2 linked regions of the Homo sapiens genome follow. The protein of the gene in region 2 interacts with the protein of the main gene of each other region in a pairwise test. Each region holds a gene or a part of one and is shown on either strand. Other genes may lie near its edges.

Region 1 (3,814 bases), on a different chromosome or scaffold from region 2:
TGCAGGCACCTGCCACCACCCCCAGCTAATTTTTTGTATTTTTAGTAGAGATGGGGTTTCACTATGTTGGCCATGCTGGTCTCAAACTCTTGACCTCAGGTGATCCACCTGCCTCGGCCTCCTAGAGTGCTGGGATTACAGGCATGAGCCACTGCGCCTGGCCAAAACAAAAATTAAAAAAAAACAAATAAAAATACAACAATTAGCTGGGTGTGGTGGCAGGCACCTGTAATCCCAGCTACTTGGGAAGCTGAGACAGGAGAATCACTTGAACCCAGGAGGCAGAGGTTGCAGTGGGCAGAGATCACCCCACTGCACTCCAGCCTGGGCAACAAGAGTGAAACTCCATCTCAAAAAAAAAAAAAATTAACAAATGGGAGGGAGGGAACAAATCTCCCACGCAGAATAATTCCAAATAATTTATGTAGATACTGCACCCTCAAGCAGGTGGTGAATACGTCCCTACCCCCAGGTGTGGGCTATGCATAGTGACTTCCTGCCAAAGAGCACAGCGTGGGAGGAGGAGAAAGAGCAACGTCACAGCAGAGGAACCTGGAAACACTGCCCAGCCAGGTGATCAAGGTCAACTTCAGCAGTGGAAAGTCCTGGCTGTGCACAGTGGCTCACGCCTGGAATCCCAGCACTTTGGGAGGCTGAGGTGGGAGCACTGCTTGAGCCCAGGAGTTTGAGACCAGCCCGGGCAATAGGTGGGACCCAAAGAAAAGTCCTGATGACAGTATATCCAGTACGTGCCCTTGATATGACATGATAGAAATGGCACTTTACTTCTGTGGTCCTCCTCTGAACAAAACCCGTAACCTCAGTCTAATTAGGAGAAAAACATCAGATAAATCTCATGATGTTCTACAAAATACCTGACCAGTATCCCTCAACATTGTCAAAGTCATCAAAAACAGGGAAGTCTGAGAAACTGTCACGGCCAAAAGGAGCCTGAGGAAACAAGGGGACTCGATGTCATACAGGATCCTGAAGCCAAAACAAGACATGACGGAAAAGCTAAGGCAGGGCGCCAGGGCTCACACCTGTGATCCCAGCACTTTGGGAGGCCAAGGTGGGAAGATCACTTCATGTCAGGAGTTCGAGACCAGCCTGGCCAACATGAGAACCCCGTCTGTACAAACGAATTTTAAAAATTAGCCGGGCATGATGGTTCATGCTTGTAGTCCCAGCTACTCGGGAGGCTGAGGCAAGAAGATCACTTAAGCCCAGGAAGTAAAGGCTGCAGTGAGCTGTGATCATACTACTGCATTCCACAGCGAGACCTTGTCTCCAAACAAACAAAAAGGTGAAAATATAAAGATCTTAAATGTTTATGGGTAAGCTTCAGTTATCCAAGTTCAAATATGTGTAAAACCTGATTTCCTGTGCCTAGCAAAGAAATAAGGTGGTGTTATCTTCACATCTGGTGGCCAGTATGGTAGGTATTGAAATTTAGTTATTAGTTCATTAAACAAACACTTTAGTCTCTTACGTGCTGTATCAGGGATGGGCAAACTATCCCTGGAACACAGGTCAATTCTGGCCCATAGCCTATTTCTGTATGGCCCATAAGCTAAGATGGTTTTTACATTTTTAAATGGTTGAAAATAACCAAAAGGACAATAGTGATTGTGACTCATAAAAATTATACAAAATTCTAATTTCGGTGTCCAAAGATAAAGATTTCCTGGACGAACATGGTGGCTCACGCCTGTAATCCCAACACTTTGGGAGGCTGAGGTGGGTGGATCACTTGAGGCCAGGACTTCGAGACCAGCCTGGCCAACATGGTGAAACCCCATCTCTACTAAAAATACAACAATTAGCTGGGCATGGTGGCGCACACCTGCGATCCCAGCTATGTGGAAGGTTGAGGCACAAGAATTGCTTGAACCCAGGAGGCGGAGGTTGCAGTGAGCCAAGATCTCGCCACTGCACTCCATCCAGCCTCAGTGGCAGAGTGAGGCCCTGTCTCAAAAAAAACAAAAACAAAAACAAAAAAGGCCAGGTGCGGTGACTCACGCCTGTAATCCCAGCAGTTTGGGAGGCCAAGGCAGGCTGATCACTTGAGGTCAGGAGTTCGAGACCAGCCTGGTCAACATGGTGAAATGCTGTCTCTACTAAAAATACAAAAATTAGCTCATGTGGTGGCACGAGCCTGTAATCCCAGCTACCTGGGAGGCTAAGGCAGCAGAATCACTTGTACCTGGGAGGCGGAGTTTGCAGTGAGCCAAGATCATGCTACTGTACTCCACCCTGGGTATCAGAATGAGACTCCATCTCAAAAAAAAAAAAAAAGAAAATCCAAAAAACAAAGATAAAGTTTTCATGGAATGCAGCCACATCCATTTACGCATATATTATCTATGGCTGTTTAGTCCTATGTGGCAGAGATGAGTAGCTGAGATAGAGACTGGCTGGCCCTGGAAGCCTAAAATATTTACTCTGTGGCTGGGCGTGGTAGCTCATGCCTGTAATCCCAGCCCTTTGGGAGGCCAGCAGGTGGATCACCTGAGGTCAGGAGTTTGAGATCAGCCTGACCAATATGGTGAAACCCTGTCTCAACTAAAAATGCAAAAATTAGCCAGGCATGGTGGCGGACGCCTGTAGTCCCAGCTACTCTGGAGGCTGAGACAGGAGAATCGCTTGAGCCCAGGAGGCGGAGTTTGCGGTGAGCCAAGATCACGCCATTGCACTCCAGCCTGGGCGACAAAGCAAGACTCCATATCATGGAAAAAAAAAAAAAATTTACTATGTGATGAGCCCTGAAAGTGGGTGACATTTCCCCGGATGACGCACAGGAGGAGTGAGTGTCTAAGACAGCATCTTGGGGAACATTAAGGTTTACGCAGCAGGCAGAGGAAGAGAACATCAGAGGAGACTGAGAAGGAGTAAGTGATGGCCAATGGTCAAGCAAACCCCAAATACGTCCATCGGATTCAGTGACAGTGACCACAAGTGGCCTGCGTCTTTATGTCTTACCAACCCATCCAAGGTGGCCTGCAGTTCCTCACACAGCTTCTCCAGTTCCTCGTTATATTCCAGACACACCTTTTCTTCATTTTCCTTCGAGGCTGGGCTGCTGCTGTCTAGTTCTATCTTGTCTTTATTCCTAAACAAAATAGAAAATAATGTGTACAAAATATACTCTTTAAGCTTGCCTTATTTCCTTATAATAAATTCTACAAACCTCTATATCCACATAGTTACGTGGGACATTTTGCATAAGCATTGTTCTTTCATATCATTATGATACAAATGCAGTTATTATTTATATGTGCAATGAATATGTCCATTGGTCACTCAATTTTGCACCAAAATAAGTCAGTTAAATTCAGCCATGTGACAGCCGGTTTTGGTGGCTCATGCCTGTAATCCCAACACTTTGAGGGATGGACGCGGGAGGACTGCTTGAGTCCAGGAGTCTGAGTCCAGCCTGGGCAACACAGTGAGACCTCATCTCCACAAAAATTAAAAGTAAAAATTAGCTGGGCATGGTGGGACACGTATGTGGTCCCAGCTACTTAGGAGGCTCAGGTGGGAGGATCACTTAAGCCCAGGAAGTCAAGGCTGCAGTGAGCCATTATAGCACCACTGCACTCAGCCTGCACAAAAGAGCAAGACTGTCTCAAAAAAAAAAAAAACACCATTCAGCGGTGTGGCATCCTTGGCATAGGGCATGGTGCTGGATGTACAAAGATGAATAAGACATGGATCATTTCCTCAAAGAGTTCACAATCCAGGAATATAGGCACGCCTCATTTTATTGTGCTTCACCTTATTCAGTTTCATAGATAATGCATTTTTTACAAAT
Region 2 (3,914 bases):
CCGAGATTGTGCCACTGCACTCCAGCCTGGGCAACAAGAGCAAGAGTCCATCTCAAAAAAAAAAGTTCAAGTTGATCAACATCCTTTCAAGCCCTTGGCATTGTCAAGAGTTTTTTGTTGTTTTAGCCATTTTATCTAGATTTAATTTTTAGGTTTTTAACGTGTTACCTGATATTTTAGCCAGTTTAATAACTTCATAGTGATATCTCATTGTGGTTTTAATATGCACTTCTCTAATAATAGCCTTGATCATCTCTTCATTTGCATATTAGCCATCCATATATCTTCTTTTGTGAAGTAGCTTTTAAAATGTTTTCTCCATTCTCTAATTAGACTGTTTCTCATTATTGAGTGTTGAGAGTTCTTGATACATTCTGGATACACGTCTCTTTATCAGATATGTGTTTTGTGCATATTTTCTTCTAGACTGTGGCTTATCTTTTGTTTTTCTTAATAACACGTGAAGCAACATTTATGGGAGGCCATTGTTTTGGAGCGAGCTCCTGCACAAGGTACCAACGGACCAGACCAAACCAGAATGGAATCGCTAGTGCAAGGTGCCACGTAATCAATGCGAACTTAGAGACAGGCCAGTCTGCCAAAACACAGAAGATTCACTGCAACCAACAAAAGGGGCCCTGTCCACCTAGGCTGGCATAAGGAAGCCCCCTCTGCTTTAACCCAAAGAAATGCATCTGAAATAACCTGATGCCAACCAATCGCTTTGTGCACTACGCTGTTTCCTTGTTCCTGCTCAAGCTACCTTACAAAACCCGGCTGCTGTGCCACGCCTGGCGGGGCATCTCCCCATTTCACACGTGGAGGCCGCCCCTTCCTGCCGTCTCCTCGCGCCCCCATGCAGAGGCTAGGGCTGCCGGGACCCGCGCGGCGCGAGCGGCTCAGGGCCCCTTTCCGGCCTGTTGTGCAGCCCGAGCCGTCTGCGCGTGCGCGAGACCGAGGCCTGGCCTGCCTCTGGGCGCCCACAGTGATCCCGTCCTCCGCTCGGCAACCAGATTCCGACGAGGAGCGCGCTGTGCCTCGGACGGGGGAAGGCGGGCTTCCTGAGTATAGTGCATTTTTTTTTTTTTTTTTTTTTTGAGACAGAGTCTCGCTCTGTCGCCAGGCCGAAGGGCAGTGGCGCGATCTCGGCTCACTGCAACCTCTGCCTGCCGGGTTCAAGTAATTCTTCTGCCTCAGCCTCCCGAGTAGCTGGGATTACAGGTGTGCGCCACCACGCTTGGCAAATTTTTGTATTTTTTGGTAGAGACGGGGTTTCGCCATGTTGGCCAGGCTGGTCTCGAACTCCTGACCTCAAGTGATCCGCCCGCCTCGGCATCCCAAAGTGCTGGGATTGTAGGCGTGAGCCCCCGCGCCCAGCCAAGCATCGTGCATTCTTTATAGAAATGAGGGGGAAATAAGCAATATGGAAAGCGCCTAGCGCAATATCAAGCACGTAGTAGGTACTCAGAACCTGTCACCCAGCGCGAAACGTCCGCAAAGCGTGTAAACAGACGCCCAGAAGCTGGGAAGCTTGCAGCCCTCATAGACGCCGGTATCGCCACGCCCTCTGCCCTCGGCGTCTCAGGAGCGCTCTCTGCCGGCCCGCTCTCCCCGTGCGTATGCACGTGCCGCCGCGTCTTCGCTTCGCTTTTTGTTTGTCCCTGACCGTGCGCCGTCCAAGGGTCCATTGGTTGCCATAGAGATCGTCGAGCGCTGGGCCTGTGATCGCTGAGGGGCGAGCAGTTGCGACCCTGGGCTCCTGGGGACCTGAGCGTTATGTCTTTCCGCGACCTCCGCAGTAAGGCAGCCCCGCGCCCCTGTGACCTGCGGGTCTTCCAGAGATTCAGGGCTCCCGCCCGCCGGGTCCCCTGTGTAGGCGATCCCTGAGGCTTGCGCTGCCGGAGGCTCCTTTCGGGCCTCTGCGCCTCAGGGACCGCCTGACCCGCGGCTGCAACCCGGCCGAGCGTCCCAGGCCCTTCTTCGGCCATTTCTAGCGAGGATGGAAAGTTCTCTATCTGCCACTGGCCGCGTGTGGCTCAGAACGCTTGAAATGTGGCTAGTGCAGATGAATAACTGAATTTTTAAGTGTAATTTATTTCTGTTTGTGTAGCTGCATGCCGCTCTTCGCTACCGTATTGGAAAATGCATGGAGAGTTTAGAGACTATTTTTTGAGTTGGGTTAGCTTAGCGCTTAGAAAACCGAACAGCAGGCCGGGCGCGGTGGCTCACGCCCGTAAGCCCAACACTTTGGGAGGCCGAGGCGGGCGAATCACCTGAGGTCGGGAGTTCGAGACCAGCCTGACCAACATGGAGAAACCCCGTCTCTACTAAAATTACAAAATTAGCCGGGGGTGGTGGCGGGCGCCTGTAATCCCAGCTACTCGGGAGTCTGAAGCAGGAGAATCGCTTTGGAGGTTGCGGTGAGCCGAGATCGGGCCATTGCACTCCAGCCTAGGCAACAAGAGCGAAACAACATCTCAAAAAACAAAAAACAAACCAAAAAAAAAACAACCAGCAACGAAACCGAGGAGAGGAGGCTGGGTGATAATCATTGCGGCTAACATTTTTTGAGTTTTAACGATCTGCCAGGGCCCGCTCTGTGTTATGCGCATTTCATTTTAATCATCTGAACAACTCTGTGCCCCCTGTATTTGGTAGTGAGGAAACGGGCACAGAGAGGTCAGGTAACTTGGGCAGGTGATACAGGCGGTAGGAGGTGGCACTGGGGCTTGAATTCAGGTTGCCTGAACTCCAGACATCCTGAACTCCATCTGCATCCTTTCTGCAGGGCTGGTAAGGAGAAGGGAGCTCGAATTCCTTTGCTAAGAGGGTGGGGAAGTGGAAGAACGAGGCTAAGAGTGTTGGTTACGGCTGGGCGCAGTGGGTCACGCCTGTAATCCCAGCCCTTTGGAAGACCGAGGCAGGCGGATCACTTAATTTCAGGAGTTCTAGACTAGCCTAGCTAACATGGCGAAACCCTGCCGCTGCTAAAAATTCAAAAAATTAGCCGGGCATGGTGGCGCGCGTCTGTAGTCCCAGGTACTTGGGAAGCTGAGGCAGGAGAATTGCTTGATTCCGGGAGGCAGAGGTTGCAGTGAGCCAAGATGGCACCACTGCGCTCCACCCTGGCCGACAGAGTGAGACTGTCTTTAAAAAAAAAAAAAAAAAAGGAAAGGTAGATGATGATTGCCAATTTGGTGTGATCCGAGGGGTCTCTTAAAGCCAGTTTTCTCGTCCAATTGTTGGTGCCTGAAATTTTAGCATTAGAGATTACTCCTTTTGGTTATGAATTGCTCTTTTCTACAATGTAAAAATATCTAGGAAGACGCATTACCTTTTATCCATGCAGCCACTGAGCACCAGAGTGTGAATCCTGCCCTCTGGGGTTTGAAGGTTTTTGGTGGCCACACATCATGCAGGATGACTGTCTCCTCCCACATAGTTTTTAGAGAGGCCAGCACCCTGCCGGGGGACGTAGAATGGGGTTTTGTTGGGGAGCGCACACACGGAGATTTCGGAATATTTTGATCTTAAATTAATGCTCTGCAGTTGTGCAGTGTATGGTAAGGATCTTACTCAAATTAGTGTCTATTTTGACAATAACACCGCAGCATTAACAGAACTTGACTAGTACCTAGTGGTCAGGAGTATTTAGGCAGTGCCTTACTGTGTGAAGGAAAGGCTGCTGCTTTCTTTTCTGTTCTTTTTTTGAGACAGTCTTGCTCTGTCTCCCAGGCTGGAGTGCAGTGGTGTGATCTTAGCTCACTGCAACCTCTGCCTCCCAGCAATTCTCCTGCCCCAGCCTCCCCAGTAACTGGAATTATAGGCGCCCGCCACCACACTCACCTAACTTTTGTATTTTTATTTTTATTTTATTCTTTTCTTTTTTTGAGATGGAGTCTCGCTCTGTCACC

What was found.
Region 1: the proteins of CLUAP1 (region 2) and CINP interact in binary tests that used the Homo sapiens proteins (3 or more experiments, as listed by UniProt).

What each region holds. Positions count from the first base shown.
Region 1 is NC_000014.9:102,352,786-102,356,599, forward strand, and holds part of CINP (cyclin-dependent kinase 2-interacting protein), read right to left. Parts: intron 3,113-3,814; coding exon 2,983-3,112; intron 1-2,982. UniProt on the Homo sapiens protein: Component of the DNA replication complex, which interacts with two kinases, CDK2 and CDC7, thereby providing a functional and physical link between CDK2 and CDC7 during firing of the origins of replication.
Region 2 is NC_000016.10:3,499,292-3,503,205, forward strand, and holds the start of CLUAP1 (clusterin-associated protein 1), read left to right. Parts: upstream 1-1,712; 5' UTR 1,713-1,776; coding exon 1,777-1,798; exon of another isoform or gene 1,799-2,793; intron 2,794-3,914. UniProt on the Homo sapiens protein: Required for cilia biogenesis. Appears to function within the multiple intraflagellar transport complex B (IFT-B). Key regulator of hedgehog signaling.